Regions from separate parts of the Homo sapiens genome. Here region 2 is linked to region 1. Evidence: fine-mapped expression QTL. A gene starts in region 1. The other region holds a variant in brackets. All regions are shown on one strand. Distances are from middle to middle. Region 1 holds the start of EXOSC7 (exosome component 7). Region 2 overlaps EXOSC7 (exosome component 7).

Region 1 (10,421 bases):
AGTAAAACACAAAATGACTAGGACTATACAAGCAACAGGAGTTCAGGCAGGCACTGCTTAAGGTGCACTGCCGGCACTCTATAACCAACGCAACAAAAGTTTAGGAGATTTCAGAACTGAATCAGTTGAGATTCCATGGTAGGCTCATTCACCTGCATCCTGACCTTTATTTGGATGGTGTAAATTGTGTTTTGCTCCTCTATACATATGGCATATTTTGGGCCAACATTAATAAGCCCTTATGAAGACGTTGATTTGAAGCCCATTACTCTGCATGGCTCTGTGATACACAGAGCTGAGCATTTACCAACAACTGTGCCCAAATATGTCCATGGTACTGGTGAGAGGGAGGTTTAATTTAAAAAATAAAAACACCATCCAACTCATTCCCCCTTTAAAGCTTACATCACCCATTCAATGCTACTAAGAACCTACCAAGTGCTAGACACTGGCTATGCCTTAAGGGTCCCCCATACAGACAAGTCAACAGGCTATTGCCTTCCAAGATCCATGATGAGCGAATGACTGAACCTCTAAGACCTCTAGGATCGTGCTTCTGGCCACCTCTGCAAGCTGATCTTCCACCATTTCCCCCAGCCCACCCCTTGGGCTCCACATGTCCTCCACCTGAGGATTTACAGACTCACCACCCCTTCCTTCTGGAACACTGGTGCCTACTTAATTCTCAGTCATGCTGAGAACTCAGTTCAAATGCTATTTCCTTAGGGAAGCCTCCTCTGACCTCCCAGTCTAGATCGTGTCCGTTTTTTCCTTCATAGCATTCAGTACAATTTTATATATAAACACTCAAGTACATTTATAGTTTCTGCATCTTCCTTCTAGCATGAGAGCTATATAAGGACAGGTTCCTTCCTAGCCCCTGAGTCTAGCTCAGTTCTGTGTTGAATGAATGAATACTGAGTCCTGAAGATACAGAGGAGGAATCCTTGACATGGATTTAGGGGAGCAATTCCACCTCCTTAGGGAAGCCTTCAGAGCATTACAAGTCCCTGGAATTCTTTTTATTTATTAAAAAAAAATTATTTCTTTAGAGATGGGCTCTCACTGTGTTGCCCAAGCTGGTCTCAAACTCCTAGGCTCAAGCAATCCTCCCATCTCAGCCTTTCAAAGTGCTGGGATTACAGGCGTGAGCCACAATGCCCGGCCCCTGGTATACTTTAACTTCAACCTCCACTAACTATACCACTTCCTTGGCATAGATCTTACATTACCTTTGTTTTTATTTTATTCACTTTTACTCTCTGTTTGTCTCCCTCCTATCTTTCATTTATTTCACAACCATGTTTTGGCATCCCTGCTGTTTCCCACATAACATGCCAGGAGCTAGATATATGTTGGTAAATAAAATTAACTAATGACCATGGTGGGACTCTGCTGCTGGATAGCTAATGAACTGCCGTGGGAATTAAGGGTGCTGGGGAGAAAGCTCTAACCTTGAGGTTACAGATATATCCATGCCTCAGTGCCACTTTCAGGGATGAAATGTTGAGAGAAAATAGGACACATGACAGAGTCACTACATCATGGTAAGCTCCGGTAACAAAGAAGACCAAAGGTTTTTAAATTTAGAGGAAAACGGTTATCCGTAATGTGTCCCTAAAAAAATACTTTGAGGATAAAAATCACCTGAACAAAGTGTATACAAAAATATAGCAGGGAAAGACATATCTAACTGCTTTTGGGCATTTTTATGCCCCCTCACACACAAATAACATACATGTTACCCTGTAATACACACATATGTCCCACTGTTGTTAATCCTGAATTATAACTAAAATATGCAACTGTGAGTTCTGACTTTATTATCCAGGCATAATATGCTAAATATTGGCATTTCTTCATATATAAAGGGCCCAGAAGATAACGGCAGGTCACGATTTTTAAATGGACATGTCCTTAACTCACGTTGTGGGACTTCAATGATAGCTGGCCGCTTCAATCCGATGGCTACATCACGGGACCACTGACTTTGCAGTTGGTACTGACAGAGGAAAGGCATGAGGAAAAGAGGTAGGAGCTGTCGCCAGAACTCTGCCAAGGATGGGATGAAGAACTCTGATAGGAGGACCACACCGTAGGTTAACAAGTGGAGACACAGCCGGAGGAGGATACAGGGTAGCTCGTTACCAGGTCCAACATTTTTCAACCCTCGTTCTGGAGTGGTCATAACCAGGGATTTAATATAGAACACAGAGGACATTAGGTTATAGCTGCCTAGGGATCTTAGTTCTTCATTGGCAAAATGGAAACAGCACTTAGGCTATCGGCTGCCTAGCCGCTTTTTTTTTGAGACTCGGCTCACTGCAACCTCCGCCTCCCGGGTTCAAGCGATTCTCCTGCCTCAGTCTCCCGAGTAGCTGGGACTACAGGCGTGCGCCACCACGCCCAGCTAAATTTTTTTGTATTTTTAGCAGAGACGGGGTTTCACCATGTTGGTCAGGACGGTCTCTTGACCTCGTGATCCGCCCGCCTCGGCCTCCCAAAGTGCTGGGATTACAGGCGTCCTAGCCGCTTTTTAAAAACCCTTCCCCCTTTATTTGTACGGCAATTTGTATTTTCAAAGTGCGTTCACCTCGCATGCGCCCTCCTAACCACGAGGTGAGGAAAAGCAGGCCAGAAGCCCACCTCCAAACTCCCATTTCCTCGAAGAGAAAACTGAGGCTCGGACAAGATCTGTGCGCGAACGCCGAATGGATGGCCCTGGGGCCGATGCTCTCTCACTAAGAAAAGGCCTCCGAGACTGCCCAAGCTTCCTGCCCGGGTTCGGAATCTTATAGACCCGCAAAACTGCAAATGCGCTAACAGTCCTAAAAACGTCCACGTTGCCAGCTCTGAATTGCAAACGCCGGCAGCAGAACCGTTTAATCACAAGGTAAACGGAGAGTCGCCGCAGCTCGGCTGCCTCCTCACTGGCAAACCCAGGGCAGGCCGCGACCCGCAGGGCCAGGCTGAACCCGGCGGCCGACCCAACGCCGCTGCTGTAGCTACCTGGACGCCATGCACGATGTACACCTTCTCCGCCTCGCTCAGCGTCACGGACGCCATGCTGCCGAGCTGCCCCACGAGCCGCACGTCATCTGCGCGCGTCCCCTCCTCTGGACCGCGCCCCCACGTCCCACCCCCCCCCGCCCCGCGTCAGCGCGTCATCAACCTGCGCGGCGGCCGCTCCTGCAGCCGCGGCCGCCGCCACTGCCGGGAGAGCTCGATGGGCTTCTCCTGCGCGCCGCCCGGTGTCTGGCCGAGTCCAGAGAGCCGCGGCGCCTCGTTCCGAGGAGCCATCGCCGAAGCCCGAGGCCGGGTCCCGGGTTGGGGACTGCAGGGGAAGGCAGCGGCGGCGGCGGCGGGAGCCCCACCGGGGTCTGGGACTGGGGAACTGCCTCCGGCTTCACGGTCAGTTGGGAAGGGAAACTGGGGTAGGGGTGAAGAAGCTGGGGTGAGGCGAGCCTCACGGGCCGGGGGACTCCCAGTGGGAGAGGCGTGCGGCGTAGTTGCTCAGAGCTGGAGTTGACTTAGGAGCGTGTGTGTGTGTGTGTGTGTGTGTGTGTGTGTGAGAGAGAGAGAGAGAGAGAGAGAGACCCCGACTAAGGAGGGGCGGACGTCGTGATTGGCCCGGGGGTGCTGTTTCCCTGCTCTTCTCCCCTCCATTTCTCTAGTCCCTAGGATGGCTGGAGAGGCGATGCAGCCCTCCCTAGGTAGTTCTTGGTGGGAAGGGTCCGGGAATGGGGGACACTAGTCCTAAGGCGTCCCCACCCCTCCACCCAGGAATATCTCTCGCTGGCTCGCTCACTCTCTGTGACCGAACGCTGTCCCATTACCTTGCTGGGACCTCTTGCCTCGGGTGCTTACCAGAGCGTTGTCCCACAGACGGGGGAGGAGGCGCTTGGTAACCGGCACTGGCGAGGTGCGCAGTGCCCGGACGTCCCCAACGCTTCCTAGCGGGAACTGGAAACCCCGGCTTGATGGAAGTGATTACTGGGAGCTGTGAGCAGTTGCCCGAAAAAAAGCCAACCCCAACCCCTTGCGATGGCCGAGTGGGAGTATGGGCATTGGATACCCGGAGAGGATATCTGCAAGGTGAAGCTGGGGTCACCAAAGGAACTCATTAAGGCGGGGCTGACAAAGTATGGTGCAAGTTTTAAAGGAGCCGTGTGGATAAATGGGAGAAAGTTAACCCAAATTAGTTGAAGCAAGGAGGGCAGGTTAAAGCAATTCTGATGACTTTCCTGATGTTCCATTTTTGAGGACCCTCAGCCAAAAAAAAAAAAAAATGGTATTTATCAGATAGTGGGTTCAAATACAGTTTCAGATAACTATTGGGAGCCTACTATAGATAGGCTTTGTGCTACCTTTAGAACACAAGACAAGTAAAACATACTATGCCCAGAGAAGTTCCCTGGGCAGATGAAGGCTCCAGGGCCAACATAACCACAGATCATGGTGGTTAGAGCTATGATGGTCGCATCAGTGGGCACAGTGGGATTGGGAGGTCGTCTGATAAGGTTATAGAGAGGAAGTGCTTGCTCACATTCTTAAGCATTAAACTGCTGAGCTCCAAAATTGATGATCAGTTCTTCGTAGACTGGACATTAGATGTTTCTTATGTCTCTACGTAATTCTCCACAGGGGCACCTAAAAGGAAGACAGCTTGCAGGGTTGGACTTTGCCTTCCAGGGAAACTGAAAGAGGTGAAGCCGGAAGGATTTCCTCCCTAATGAAGGCACAGGTGCCCCACCTGTTGTGGCACTTAGATGTGTTTGTGTGTGGTTGGACGGCTGGGTTTTATGTGAGGAGCTCTGTTGTGATAAGATAACATGAGATTGCTGATGTTATAAATGATATTTTCTAGATGTGCTAGAGATTGCTCAGAAAGGAGAGACCCTGGAAGTGGGATTTTAGAAGCTAGGATATCTGAGGAGACTGAGGATTTAAGAGGTGACAGCAAATGGACAGATCAGAAAGACACAGGAAGAAAAGCCTGAGTTCAGATACCATGGAGTTATCTTTATATAAAGATTTTCCAATGTCTTAAAATATAGAACATGTATTTGAACTGTCCCCCCCTCACAATTGACGGGAATTCCATACTGGACAAGGGTCTGCAGTATTTGCTAAATAATGTTATGAACGATGTCTTATATATTAGGCTAAGTAGGTAAGAGAGATGTAAACAGTAGAATGTTCCTTTTTAAATTGTCTACTAAAACAATGACAGTCTTCACTAATCATTCGGCTTAAATGCTGCCAGAACATTTTTATCACCTTTGCTGTAATAGTGCATTGGACGTCTTTAAAATCCATAAATTCTGAGTTCTTTTTTAGTGTATTGAAGTAATTCAAAGAACATATGATAACCAAAAAAATCAAGAAGTCAAGGATGGCACAGTATTAAACCGTCTTGTTTTTCCATCACTATTAGATTCATTTATTGAATGAATAAATGAATTGGGGCATACTATTCTGTAGGTTTGTGTATTCTAAAACCTTATACTCTAATTTTCAACACTAATTTACATAGTGCTTATTGTATGCCAAGCATTGTTCTAAGCACTTTATAAAGATTAACCAGGCTAGGTGCGGTGGCTGACATCTGTAATCCCAGCACTTTGGGAGGCCGAGGCCGGTGGATCACCTGAGGTTGGGAGTTTGAGACCAGCCTGACCAACATGGAGAAACCCCATCTTTACTAAAAATACAAAATCAGCCGGGCATGGTGGCGCATGCCTGCAATCCCAGCTACTCGGGAGGCTGAGGCAGGAGAATCGCTTGAACCCAGGAGGCGGAGGTTTTAGTGAGCTGAGATCACGCCATTGCACTCCAGCCTGGGCAACAAGAGCGAAACTCCATCTCAAAAAAAAATAAAAATAAAAAATAACTGATTCAATCCTTGCAACAGCCCTGTGATGCAAGTATTCTTATCCCTATTTTACAGATTGGGAAATGAGGCACAGAGAGGTTAAATGCCTTAACCAGGGTCACAGGTTACATCATTGGTAAATGGCAGAACCAGGACTTGAGACCAGGCAGTCTAGCTCTCCTGCCCATACTCCTAACCATCACCTTACACAGCCTCCCCCCAGGTTTTATTACATTCACCAGATTATTTGGTGAAGGAAATCCCAATTTTGTTATGGCGTTGGTAACTGTCCTATGAACTATATAGTTAATCTTAATTCCAAAAGCAAGAAGTCTGTTCAAGCATAAACTCATATCCCTTGAATCATTTTTCTAGAGGAACATGGAATGTGGTGCTGATGGGATGTTGCTGTGTCTGTTGCAACCCAATATTTTAAACAAGGTAAAAGGTTATATATGAGCAGAATAAGAGCTTAACTCCAAGTAGCTAAGGAGAGAGCCCTCAATGGCAAAGATGGCTGATAGATCTGGTACTAGGGTTGAGTAGCATGCATGGAGACCCAGATTCCAACCGTATGCCATACTCAGATATCTAGAAACTCCAGACAGTGTGTTTGCATGCCTGTGAGTCCCTGGTGTTCTTATGGGCATAAAGAGATAAACTCAAAACACAACACCTGCCTAAAAGTAGTTTAGAATTTATTATAGTGGGGGAGCCCAGGACCTCGAACTACTGCATGAACAAGACAATAAAATAAAGTGCTCAATTGAGACGTGGCAATTAGAAGAGAGGCCAGCCTATAATAAGGTGCTAATTGTGCAGGCCAGGTATCAAATACAAAAGGTAAAGAGCTGCTGCTAGCCACAAGCCGGCAACAATAACATGACAGAGATGGAGTAACTCTGTCCCACCCATCCTTGGTTAATTAAACCAATAAAAGCCAGTTACAAAAGAGCTTCAGGGCAATGCTGAGTCTGTGGTGCTGATGTTGCAGAGAGCTTTTTTGGAGACAGAGTCTTGCTCTGTTGTCTAGGCTGGAGTGCGGTGGCACAATCTCTGCTCACCGCAACCTCCGCCTCCTGGGTTCAAGCAATTCTTGTGCCTCAGCCTCCCGAGTAGCTGGGATTACAAGTGTGTGCCACCACTCCCGGCTAATTTTTGTATTTTTGGTAGAGACTGGGTTTGGCCATGTTGGTCAGGCTGGTCTCGAACTCCTGGCCTCAAGAGATCTGCCTGCCTTGGCCTCCCAAAGTGCTGTGATTATGGGCATGAGCCACCATGCCCAGCCATAGAGAGCTCTTAAAAGCCCAGCAGGAAACCTTCTGTTCCCAGTCCTAAGCAGACATGGCCATGTTTTAGGCCTTTTCCTTTGCATTTTCACCATTAGCCCAGCACCCTTGAAATGTACAAAGTCAGTTACCGTTTTGCCTGTAGATCTGTTTCCTTTAAACACTTTGCATTTGTCCCGCCTGTACCTTGTCTTAAAAGAATGAGGTGGGAGGATCCCTTAAGCCCCGGAGTTTGAGTCCAGCCTGGGCAACATAGACCCCATCGCTAAAAAATAATAAAATAAGTAATAAAATAATGATAGAAATGAAGAATATCTGTAAAGAATACTGTCATAGTCTGGCCAGCAGGTCTTCATCTGTCTTCTAGACATTGTAACTTGAGATTACAGTGATAGAAAAATTGCTAGTAATACATGGGTAAAGCTTACTCTTAATTAGAGGAAAAGTTATACAGTCTTCATGTGTGTTTCATTTTGGGAGAGTGACAGCATGTTTCCTATGTCTCATTAGGGCATATTTGAGAAAAGGGGGTAACAGATCCTGCTTACCAAATGTAGAAATATTTAAACACACACACCCTGATAGCCATGGAAAGTAACAAAGTCTCAAGTAGAAGTGGAGGGGTGATGTCTCAGTGTTGACCTGTTGGGGAAAAAATGAGGCTCATGCCATGCTGCCTTTAGTTCCTTCCTGTTTTGCATTTTAAAAAATCATTTGCTTTCCTCCTCGGAAGCAGATTTCCAGAGACAAATGGCCAGTTCATTCATGGCTGTCAACTGTGAAGGTGAGAAGGCTCCAGGTGCATGTCCCACTTAATTCAGTCATACATCCTAATACATTTGGAATGCATGGGAAATGTCATCATTTCATAGTCTCCTCCAAACCATAGACTTCGTAGTATGTATTGACTTGGCACTTGAACTCTTGGCAAGATATGAATATGTATTTCCTATTCAAGGTCAGTGGAGATGCAATGCCTTTGAGTGAGATCACTTTCTTACCTTAGCAAGGTAAGCCTAATGAGACAAGTACAGTTCTGGCCACAGTCCTGTTGCAGTAAAGTCTTCAGTATGTGAAGTGTATGTTTCTAAACCAAGAAATAGTAGCAGAGAATCTAGAAAGACAGGTTGTTTAGGAAGATAACAATCTATGGTAGAAAGACTTCCGGGCATCTTAGTCCAAAGATTTGGGCTTTGCTATTAACTTGCTTTATGACTTTGAACAAGTCAGTTAACCTAAGTCTCATTTTGCCCTCAAGTGAGTATCTTGCCAGGTTTTTAAACTCAGAATGGATCCTGGATATGCAAATATTTGAATATTGAAAAATGACCATGTTTAAATTGGGGTTTTTAAGACTTCTTTCATTTACCACTTCATTATACTTGATATATTTTGCTAGTGCTTTTTCCACTCTGAAAAAAATTAAATGAACAAAAGGAAGTCGTAATTTTATGCTGTACTTGATTGAAAAAACTAAACATGCTCAGGAAATTGCTAAGAGAGATAGTTACTAGTGGGCTTCTTTTTGAATATTAGCAAATCGGGAAAAGAGGTAAGTGAAGCTTTTGGTAAAAAAATGTAAAATCCAAGATATTAACAAAGAAAACGTTGAATTTGCTCCTGAGAACAGAGGACTCATAGAATCTCAGCCCTGCAAGGGGCCCTAGCAATCAGCGTGATCTTCCCCTTTGTTTTATCAAATGAGGAAACTGAGGCCCAGAATGGTAACTGTCTTGCCTGAGATCATGAGGTTAGCGAGTGGCAGGATTGGGAGTAAACTCTGGCCTCTTGATTCCAAGCTCAGTCTTCATTCCCTTTAGCACTAGCCTCCCATCTATTTCCAAAGCCCTCTGGTGAATGGCTGGAGAGCCCCTCACCAGGTAAGCAGGGGCTGTGTTCTCTTTCTCACAGCCCATTACAGCCTTCTTTCTGTGGTCCCAGGTTCCTCCCAGGGCTCTGCTCTTGCACTGCCACTTACAGTGCCTGGAATAAGTGATACCAGCAGATTCCTGAAAGTCAAATGGCTCCCCTTTTTAGGCCCTAGTACCTAGTACAGTTGCAATAACTGGTTCTCTCCCTTCCCTAGCTAGTCTTTCGGATTTCTCTAAGCACTTTTGCTTTTAGTCCCTAAAAACAACCAAGCTCTGGCCTAGCCTAAGTGATGTCACAGTGGCTGTGTGGCTGCACATGACACAATGTGGGCCCAGGTGTCATTCTCAACATCCTCAGGTGGGAACCTTTGCTGATAGGTCTCTGCCTAGCATGGGGGGAGGCGTTTTTTCTCACAAAAAGCAGCATTCTGTTACTTGGCACCACAGGAAGTATTTCCCAGCCAAAGCAGATTTTAGGGATTCAATCCTAGGTGACTCTTCTGGCTGAGGCTTCACGGCCTTCCTGCCTCCTAGGTTAGGGCAGGATCGGTATTCTAAATGTTGGCTGGTATTCAGCCAGGGCCCCACCTTAGAGCCCAAAATGCTTATGTTCAGGCCTGTGGCCTGTGAGCACCACTGCATGCAGCCCACTCGATAATGCCACCTCTGCATAACCATGTGTGGACAAGATAGCCAAACCGTAAGTAACCCAAGGTCACTGATGGAAACATCAATACTCCTCCCCCTTTTATTTTCTAGTTACTAGACAAAATTTAATTATTGTAGTAAGTAGTGAAAAGCAAGCCCTGGGGCAAGAGCAGACTTTGGGAGTATATCCTGTCTCCACCACTTCCTGGAAGTATGGTTGTAGGCATGCTTCAGTTTTCTCGTTTCTAAAAGCAGGATGGGGAAGTGGGCATTTATATGTGCAAAATAGAGTAGATGTGAGAATCAAACAGGAAGAGGCATGTGTAGCAAGCAGCCCAGTGCCCTGATGGAGGCAGTGGTGACACCTTAAGTGAGGGTCAGGAAAGAATCAGGGCCCCACCCTACATTCAGCATATCCCACACTTTGGCAACAATCAAGCAGAACTGGAGCCTACCCTCACAGAGGCCAGAAGGCAGTTCATTGTCAAATGAGATCATGCACTGGATTACAAGGGGTTCACAAACTATGAGAGTATCACCGTCATCGGCAAGTGTTCATTGGGTAGCTGGAGCAGTCATTTATTGTTGCCTTTATGAAGATGCTCCTGCTGGCTTACAAACTTCCTGCAAGGAGAAGTTAATGCAGGGAGATGGCAGCGTAGCAATTAAACAGATTGTAGTAGTTACCATCCATTAGACCTAGAAAACAAGTTAGCCACCTCCCTGTGAAGATCCACT
Region 2 (10,421 bases), 39 kb before region 1:
GTGTGTGGTGGTGTTGTTTCTTTTCTCAAAGCTGCTGGAAGTCTCAGTTATACAAAACAGGCTTTGGTCACTCCACCCATATTAGCCCGAATAACATGCAAACTTCTGGCCCACCATGGAGCCATTCCAGCCCCCTACCCCACCCGCAACCCTCACCCGGCACAGATGTTTCCTTTTAGTTCCACTGGCCCCATGTCAACAGAAATGTGGCCCGGCTATAACAGAGGCAGAGAACTTTCCACATGCCCTTCAAAGGTAAGAGCATATAGACAGCCTGGTGCAGGGGCTCACACATGTAATCCCAACTCTTTGGCAGGCAGAGCTGGGAGGATTGTTTGAGCCCAGGAGATGGAGGCTGCCGTGAACTATGATCATACTACTGCACTCCAGCCTGGAAAACAGAGCAAGACCCTGTCTCTAAGAAAAAAAAAAAAAAAAACTTTGTTGGCCTAGTACTCTGTCATTCATTCAAGTATTGGCTCTGTCCCTGTGTACCGGGCCCTGAGTTAGGTAGGTCCTAACTCAACCAAATCTTAGCTCTCAAGGGGCTCACAGTCCTTGTTGTTTTATCCTTAAAGCTCTGTAGTGTGGCAGTGGAAAGAGAATGGAGTCCCGAGTTCCAAATTTGGTTGAGATACCTGGCACTTGTGTCGTTTTGGATGAGTTACTCAAGACCAAACTCCTCTTCTGTAAAGTGGGGTAATAATCTCTACCCTGCTTGCACATGGGATTCTTTCAAGGAGCAAACTGAGGTCTCGCATGGGAGACAGCTGAGCAACCTGCAAGGTTGTGGGAAGGAGGAGGGGTGGTCTGAGCCACCACGCTGTCCCAGTGTGTCAAGGAGCTTGATAGCCTCTTTCCACACCTCGATTCCTTCCACTCCAAGGGACAGTAACTTAATCACCTGATTTGTAACTTTGGGAATAATAAACTGGGCATGCACTTACCTGATGCCCTCAGCTATAATAGTTCACACAAGAGGAGAAAAACAGATAGCCCTATAGAATGCTACAGGAGATTTCAATCTTCTTTAGCTGAAACTCCCTGACTTCCCATCATGTCTGAGAATTTGGCAAATATAAACCCAGCTGTGTGTTTAGGGATCTTTGAGTTTCTAAATCATCACACTATCCCTACACAGCTTTGCTGGAGGTTTTGCAGGTTTCCCTTTCCCCGGTAGAGTTCCTCTATGTTCCCAAGCCTGATTCTTATTCCACGTCCAGAATCTGCAAATGCCCCCAGGGAAGGAAATGCCAGTGACAGCCTGCTCACTTCAGAAAGTCTCCCCCTTCTCTGGAATTTTAGGCCATGAAATCCTCTTTACTTCCAGAGCTTCCCAAAATCTTTAATGATATGACTCTTGAAATGCATTCAGCATTTTTAGCTGCAGCAGCATGAATGGTGGTCCACCATGACCTACATATCCTACCCAGAACTGAAGTCAAAACACTTGTTGAACACCTCCCTTGGAAAATGTCCTCTGATGGGCATTAACACGATTCCCGACTATCTGCGCTTTTTTTGGCCCATTCCCACAGGTCCATACAAATCCCTTTTCTCTGATCATCCCATCTTACTCCTTTCAGGCCCTTGTCCAACTAGCCAAGTTACTCCCTACTATCCGGGAATCCACGTGTACCCTTATCCCTTTGTGCAAACTTAACAACCAAGTGCACTGGCTGCACTCAGTTCTCTCACTGCTGTCCTGCAGGGCTGTAATGCAGGAGCAGTCCCTTTGGGGCACACATCAATATAGAGAACCAACTCATCCACAAGGCAGACCTGGGGTTTTCCTCTTCCAGTAGCTGGCTGCAGGAGTCCCCTCCCCCATGAGGTCATAAGTGTGGATGAGAGGCACTGGCGAACAGGGGTGACAGACGAATCTGGGCTACCTGGTATATTCCTTGGTTGTGCCCACTGAACTGCTCAGGCCTAATCCTGAATGTACATTTTCATGTTGCATGGATTGTTGCTGCACCCACCCAAACTTATGACCTGGTGGGTCTGACAATAACCAGCATGATGGGTGGCTCAGGTCACTTGAGGTCCCAGGGTTGGGTATTCAGTCTCTAATTGGGCCCAGTGGCAAGCCAGAAACTTCTTTTCAAACTCACTCATTTGGAGGTGAATAGCTTTCCACCACATGGCCTTGCTCCAGAATCCTAGGGTCTGTGCTACAACGTTCCTGTTGGGCCTGCCAGAAACTACACAGCACCCTTACCTGCCCCAGATAGCACTAGCTCCGTTGGAATTTCTGGGTCACATGGAGCAGGAGGGATGCTTGTAATGCAGCTTAAACAGGCTTCAGAGTCCTGTCTTATTCTGGACTCCCATTCACAACTGGTAGGTTTGTGAATTACTCAATAAATGCATTGAGACAGCATTCTCAAGTACAGCATTCTTGTCTCCAAAATCCAGAGGCCCAACAAGTGCTGTACTTCTCAGTGAGGGTAGTGGGGATGAGGGTGGGTGCAAGGTTCAAAATCTACCACCTTAGAGGGGGTATCTCTCAGAATGCCCCACACCACTGGATACCTAAAAACATTATCAGTGTGGTGGTCTCCTTAATCTTCATGGGGTTTATTTCCCACCCTCTCAGGCATGTGTCTTTTACTAGGACTTCCAACGGCTTTCCACGTCCTATGTACTAGATCTAATAAACATGATTTTATCAACATAAATAGATCAGCGCGATGGCCCTGAAGATATCACTGTGACAAAAAGTAGGTGATTAACATAGACCGCTGACAAGACACTGAACACATTTTGCAGTCCTTCCACATAAGAGATCTGCTTTTGACCCTTCTTGTTAATGGGGATTAAGGAAGAATTTTCCTAACTTATAGCCACATACGAAGCATTGGAGGCTGTGCTGATTAATCTTAGTGAAGATACTTCATCCAACAAAGCAGTGGAAATTGGAGCTCTCTCGTGTGTTTGGTGGTCATCTACCATGATTCACCTGGCTTTTACAGGGGCCACAGAGATAAGATAAATGGCAATGAGGCGGGGACAACTACCCTTGCATCCTTAAAGTCTTTGATGTTGGTCCTAATCTCTGCAATTTCTCCCAAGATCCAATATTGTCTCTGATTTATTATCTTGGCCAGGGAAGGGAGGCAGTTTCCAACCTTGACCCTTCTTACCATTGTGGTTTTCATTCCATCCCATTTATGACATCTCAATTGTACCACATCCATCCCACCTACACATTTGGGGAAGGAAATTATCCCAGGACCTAATGACCATTGTGAGCCAGACTTACTTGTACCATCCATTTATTACCTAGCCTCCATCCCCCATCCCCTTTGACTGGAGAGCCTTGGTGGCATTTCAGGTCTCCTAATACAGGCATCAAGTCAAAACCCAGATTCAAAAGGCTTCAAATCACCTTTCCTCAATGCTGGTATTCCAGACTGGAGAACTATTATTGTAGGTGCTGATGGTGATATTACAGGATTCTTATTTAAAGACACCAACCTCCCTCCTGTCAATGGACTTTGATCTGTGAACTGGCTTACGGAAACTGGGTGAAGGACTGGAATTTCCCATTATAGTGGTTGACATAAGCTTTTTATGCTCCAATTATTATTATTTTTAATTTTGACAAGTTGAGTAAAATCCTGATTGGCTGCCCATGTCTTAACCCTCAGAACACATAATCTATTAGCTACGGTCTGACTGCCGTAGAGGCAGAGGCGAGGCTGAGGACAGAAGGTAATCCATCAGAGGCATCTAGCAATGCATGGAACATTGTTTCCCCACTAACTAGCAGTTACTTTATGGCCATTATTTGGGATGTATAAATAACACTGGGATAAACTCCTCTGTATTAATGTTTCCACTCCCCTTGTATCATAAATTATTTACTTTGATTACATGCCCAGAAGTAGAATTACTAGGTCAAAGGGCAAACATTTTTAAGGCTTTTTGTTGAGAAGGAGTCTCGCTCTGTAGCCAGGCTGGAGTGCAGTGGCGCGATCTTGGCTCACGGCAACCTCCACCTCCTGGGTTCAAGCAATTCTCCTGCCTCAGCCTCCCAAGTAGCTGGGATTACAGGCGTGTGCCACCATGCCAATTTTTGTATTTTTAATAGAGATGGGTTTCACCATGTTGGCCAGGATGGTCTCGATCTCTTGACCTCATGATCCGCCCACCTCAGCCTCCCAAAGTGCTGGGATTACAGGCGTGAGTCACCACACCCGGTCTTTTAAGGCTTTTAATGCACACTGCCAGATTGTTTTCCAAAAAGTCTGGAATAGCGAAGACTTATTCTCTACTGGCAGTTTGTATGTTAGACAACTGGCTTTACTGAGCAAACAAACTACTGTTAATATTCTAAACTCGGCCAGGTGCTGTGGCTCACGCTTGTAATCCCAGCACATTGGGAGGCCGAGGCAGGCGGATCACAAGGTCAGGAGATCAAGACCATCCTGGCCAACATGGTGAAACCCTGTCTCTAATAAAATAAAAAAAATTACCCAGGTGTGGTGGTGCACGCCTGTAGTCCCAGCTACTCAGTAGGGTGAGGCAGGGGAATCGCTTGAACCCGAGAGGCAGAGACTGCAGTGGGTGAGATCACGCCACTGCACTCCAGCCTGGCAAAAGAACGAGACTCCGTCTCAACAACGAGAAAAAAATCTAAACTCATGTCCCAGTGCAGTGGCTCATACCTGTAATCCCAGCACTTTAGGAGGCCAAGGCAGGAGGATTGCTTGAGGCCAGGAGCTCAAGACCAGCCTGGGCAACATAGTGAGACCCTCATTTTAAAAAAATAATTTGCTGGGCATGGTGGCATGCCTGCAGTCCCAGGAAGGTGGGAAGATCACATGAGCCCAGGAGTTTGAGGCTGCAATGAGCTATGATTGCACCATTGCATTCCAGCCTCGGTGACAGAGTGAGACCCTATCTCTAAGAACAAAGAAAAGAAAAAAAATTAACTCGTGATTTGGAAGACTAAAGAATCAGAGACAAAAACCCACTTGAATATTATTTAACATTGCATTTCTTATACTCCGCCCTTACTTTGACCAACTTCAATGTTCTTCTACCTAATGTTTATTTAAAGACCACTAAAGACAGCTGTGGCTCTGCTGGATCAAACAGGTCTGTCCCAGGATAATATTTTTCCAAGTCTTTGCCAGTCTCTGTCTTCAGTTTTCTCTTCTCTCACTCTGACAGTTGCAACAATCAGATCTTTCCAATAAATGCCTCTCCTGGAGAGTCCCTGCTCATATGGTGTTTTGTTTCATTTGCAATATACGTATATTACATGTAGGGGTGGCCTTCAGGGAAAGGTATGGGGTGGCTAGAAACAGATTCCACCATCTTTTTCTCTTCTTTCTCCATTTTTACTGGAAGTGCTTAGCCAGCCATCCAAGCTGGTAGCTGCTTGTCATACCACTGGCATGGCAAAGCCTCATCTGTCTGTCTGAAGGGAAGTGAAGCAGAGCTGAGTCTGACATATATGACAGTACCCATTCTAATTTATGCATCTCAAAATGATCCACTGGAATCAACCATCAAAAGCAAATGCTTCTAAACTTTATTCACACTCGAGTTGCATCTCTGCGCCACCACTGCCAATGTTTTGTCATGTCACGGGCAGTCAACCAGGAGCAGGGAAGGAGAGACCAGGCTGATTTCTGCCTTGTTGGGAACACTGTCATGGTGCCTGTAGATAGTCACTGAAGAAACATAAAAGATGAAAACCCAGGCTATGCTCTCAACAGGGCAGAAGCTCCCCCATTAAGCCCAAGTCTAGGCAGCTGCTTCTCTCCACAGGGATGGACCTGGCCTTGCTGGGAGGAACGCCCACACCAGGACCTCTGGAAGCAGTCCCAAGGGCTTCAGCTCACATTATGTTCTTTCCATTTGGTGATAAATTCCTAACGCCTTACCCCATTTGCTAACTGGAATGCAGAGAGCAAATGCCACGGTTGAAACGCTCTCCTTCGTGAATCAGCTCCTTCCCCAGGGTGTTTTAAGATTTAGGAGTTTCAGTTCCCCTA[G/A]AAAAAAAAACAAAGGCTGCTCTACACATGAAGAGACTTAATTTTAACACACTGCACAGTGAGACTACAGGCTTATAGGAAGAGCCTTCTGGGCCAGCAAGCATAGTCTTCCTTTCAATGCTGAGAGCATGAAGGCAGCTGAATTATCAAATGACAACATCTTGAAAGCTGCCTTCTTAATGCTGACAAAACAAAATCTTAGGAAACACCAGGGAGTGGTTATAAAACACAAAGCAATTTCAAAACAAGAGTGATAAGAAAGGATGGCTAAGGGCCAAAGTGGCTGCCACTAAAGCCCCTGAACCTAGGGAATTCCATTCGGATCTCTTGGAGGGCAGGAAGTCAGAGCTGGACTTTCCCAGGATTTGGGATGGCTAACCAGACAGACAGACGCCCTGGGTGTGTACCTGCAGCAGAGTGCCTCCTCTTTTTTCCTCTCCCAGAACCACCCAAATACACAAGGTGAATGAACTTTTCTTTGTGATTCTTATTTTTAAAGTTCTTCAAGGGGAAAAAAATTCACAAAATACATATCATAAGCATTTCCTGTAAACCAGTTTCTGTCAGGTCTTTACTCCAGCTTGTGGGGGTCTCCCTTGGTGGCAGAGCTCTGGATTTGTCTGCCACTCACTAGATAAGGGCCAGACCCAGATGGGTCACTGAATGGTGCCTTGGCTTCAACTGAAGAACTCTAGACATACCAAACCAGACCAGAAAATAGCCTTTAATTTTACATGTACAAATGCTGCTGTAAATTCGTAACAGCGAAGAAAAATATATACGAACCGGTTTAAAAGGAAAAGTAAAAAACAATCCACAGTTGAGCAGTTGATGTGCAAATCATCCCAGGAATCCAACTTTCTGTCTCTTGGGCCCCAGGCTTTCTTCCTTGTGCACAACACTCTGCAAGGAGGCATGCAGTACCTTGCCCACACGCTTGCCAGTCTGTGGAGAAGGGACGGGAGAGAGCACACACCCCCTTGTAAGGCACACACACTCTGACCAGAAAAGCATTCCTTTCTGCCAGCTAGTCTTTCTGACATTGTACACATTCCATCTGCCTTAGAGGACTTTTATTTAATTAAAGCAAATTAAAACAAAAACCACAGACCCCAACAACATAATAAATTTTGTAAAAATCGTCATATCAAAAAAATAAAAAAGAGAGACAAACACCAGCCCCCACCAGGCAACAAACAGAGAGCAGCAAAGCCTGCCCTGGCCATTAGCTCATGCTTCACTATCCTGCTGCCACTGCAACAAGCAACAAAGTTGTCAATCAAATCTGGGCTTGGGTACAGCCAGGTGACACTGTACTATAGGGAGACCACAGGGAATCCAGAGTCTGTCTGGAGAAGAAACAGATGATGCCAAGGACATTTTAGTAAGCAGCTTCTCATTCACCTCCCATGAAGCCTCTAAGCAGAACTGCTCAGGTGTGACCAAAGTCAGTACCTGGATGGGATCTTTGGTGTTTACTGCCATGCTGAGATGCTAAAGGCAGTGAAATGTTAGAATCGAAACACATCAAGAGGGACAACCCACAAAATTAATAATCAGTCCCTACAGAGCAGACACGAGAGGTAAAAAAAACAAAAACAAAAACAAAACAAAACAAAAAAACTCAATATGGCTGGGAGTAGTGGCTCATGCTTGTAATCCCAGCACTTTTGGAGGCCAAGGCAAGAGGATTTTGCTTGAGGCCAGGAGATCAAGACCAGACTGGGCAACAGAGTGAAACCCCATCTCTACAAAAAACTAAAAATTAGCTGTGCATGGTGGTATGCGCCTGTAGACCCAGCTACTCAGGGGGCTGAGATGGGAGGATTGTTTGAGCCCAGGAGTTCACGGCTGCAGTGAGCTGTGACTGTGCCACTGTACTCCAGCCTGGATAACAGAGCAAGACCCTGTCTCAAAAAACAACCACCACCCCAATATAAAAAAATATATTTTTCTTTATGAAACTGTTATTCTGTCTCTGGGCCCAAGAATCATTTTAAGAATACAAAGAACCAACCACAAATCTCTACCTTATCAGGTCTTTCACATTCCCATAGCAGTGTGGATTCAACTCTGCCACTGGTTCCATTCTCAACAATGTTGAGATAAAAACATCCATGCCTAAATCCCTGCCTCAATCTCTTCAGTTACAGGTGTATCCTCCCCAGAGTAATGACTTGTGTGTCTTCTCCCCTGGCCCCTAACTGTAACATGGGATGAGATCCCAAGTATGACTAAAACTCTTATGAAAAGATGATTTCGATCTAAAAGGCTGGGAAGTGATCACCTCTATGAAATGCAAAGTCAGGGTTAAAGGTCAAAAAGGCCTTCGGGGGCTGGATGTGGTGGCTGATGCCTGTAATCTCAACACTTTGGGAGGCTGAGGCAGGCAGATCACAAGGTCAGGAGTTCAAGACCAGCCTGGCAAACATACTGAAACCCCGTCTCTACTAAAAATACAAAAAAATTAACTGGGAGTGGTGGCGGGCACCTGCAATCCCAGCTACTCGGGAAGCTGAGGCAGAATCACTTGAACCAGGGAGGCGGAGGTTGCAGTGAGCTGAGATCGCACCACTGCACTCCAGCCTGGGCGATAGTGTGAGACTCCATCTCAAAAAAAAAAAGGGCCTTTGGAAAGATTTTCCCATAACATTAGAAAAAGAAAAAAAAGTCTGAATCTGTCAAACAGGGGTACTGATTATTCATATACATGAGGGTGGGGAGAGAGGACAACAAGAGGAGATGAGATGGACAGGATGCCAGGACTTGAGAGGGCCTTGACGCCTCTGAATCCAGATGCAGGAAAGCAACTGCAGAGGCTAGGGGTGGCAGCCTGCACAACTACCCCCAAGGCTCTCAGCTCCACCAAGTCATTTTCCAGATTGCTGCATCCCTGTGTGAGATAAACAGTAAGACAGGGCCACAGAGCTATAGTCCCCTGTCCAGAGTTAGCAGACCTCACTCCCCAAACCTGAGGGGAGGACAAAGCTCAGCTCACTGAACAGAGCTCTGGTTCTGCCATCTATGACAGCCAGGGCAGATCTGGTTTATAAGGCTGACATTGCACAGTGGCTGGGAGCAGGGGCTCTGGACGCACACAGTCTTGGCTTAAATCCTAGCTCCAGTATTTATGAGCAGGGAGGCCTGTAGGCAAGCTGCTTATCCTCTGTGTGCCTCAGTTTCCTCATCTGTAAAAATGAGGACAATAATAATAGTTACCTCACAGGTTGTTGAGGACTAAATGATATATTTAAAGCAGTGAAAACAGTATCTGGCACATAGTACGCACACAATAAACTCCAGCTATTTGTTTACTGTGCTTGTTGTTGCTGTTTAAAGAAATTCTCATAAACTCTCCTGGGAGGGGGAAGAGTACCTTCTAAAACAAGGTTTGACAGTCCCTTGCCTAGAGGACTTTGGTAGAATTTATGCAGCATTAAGTCTGGAGAAATTTGAACTCAGGGTGCTTCATGGAGCACAGAGAATAAGAGCTGCCATTAGCTGAGAACTGATGACATATCAGGCACTGTGACATGTGCTTCTCCTCTACACCTCACATCATCCTAATAACAACCTCAGCAGTGTCTGGGCAGATATTACTATTATCAGTCCCACTTTGCAGATGAGGGGGACTATGGCCCAGAGCCAGGTTTGCAGCCAGGGCAGTACACCCTCACAGCCCATGGTTGGGAACTCCATGCTATATACAGTGCTCATTTTGGCCTTTTAAATAACATGATAAAGAGAGAAAGTAGATGTCATGTTCTTGGATTCTTCAGTATGAAGTCATTGTTTCTAAACACAAAAGAAGAGTGCTTGCTATTAAGCAATGATCTCTGGGCATGTGTGGTGATATAGAGGTTGCAAGAAAGTATGAATAATCAGATCCTGCTAACTCTGTTCCTGGAAGTTCAGTCAGTCAATCAGTCAGAAAGGTGAGGTGGATATAGGGGAAAGAAGGTCTGGGAAACAGGTGAGCAGGACCCTGTCCCTGCCCTGCGGGGCTTCCAGGCCAGTGAGGTGACAGACATGTGGGGCAAACAGTACAGAGAACTGTAGAAGCGCCTTGATGGCTCTGCTAGGGATGAGGGCAACCCAACCCAACTCCAGTGGGTCAGATTTCTTACCATCCCTGCTTGTCTCCATTTAAACACTTCTAGAGCTGTAACGAATTTGGGAGACAGCCACAGTTCAGCCCGTGCTTCCACCTTTACTCACCCACTTCTAGGGACAGGAAGCAGTGAGCCAAGAATTCTATTCCCTCATCAAGTCACAAAGGCCTGCACTTTTGGAGTTACGAGTGGCTCTTTACATTATGAAAGTCCAACAGTCTTATTTAGACACATAGAAATGAGATGGGGGGTACTTACTGAGGACAATTAATGGTTACTGGTAGGCTCCTTACCTCCC

What was found.
Region 2: its variant is fine-mapped to the expression of EXOSC7 in whole blood (TOPMed, PIP above 0.99). The same link has a PIP of 0.9 or more in T cells, blood mononuclear cells and monocytes.

The regions. Positions count from the first base shown.
Region 1 is chr3:44,968,923-44,979,343 of GRCh38, reverse strand. EXOSC7 (exosome component 7) reads right to left here and starts at 3,100. Exons shown (of 8, transcript NM_015004.4): 1 at 3,010-3,100. The coding sequence starts at 3,066. ZDHHC3 (zDHHC palmitoyltransferase 3) reads left to right here and starts at 3,170. Exons shown (of 7, transcript NM_001135179.2): 1 at 3,170-3,411. RefSeq lists silencers at 3,134-3,203, 3,324-3,423 and an enhancer at 3,646-4,190.
Region 2 is chr3:45,007,770-45,018,190 of GRCh38, reverse strand. It overlaps EXOSC7 (exosome component 7), which reads right to left. Exons shown (of 8, transcript NM_015004.4): 8 at 6,720-6,956. The coding sequence ends at 6,852. Among named protein-coding and RNA genes, the nearest start is that of CLEC3B, 13 kb to the left of the region's middle. RefSeq lists an enhancer at 5,978-6,097. The variant G/A (reference allele first, on the strand shown) is at 6,012.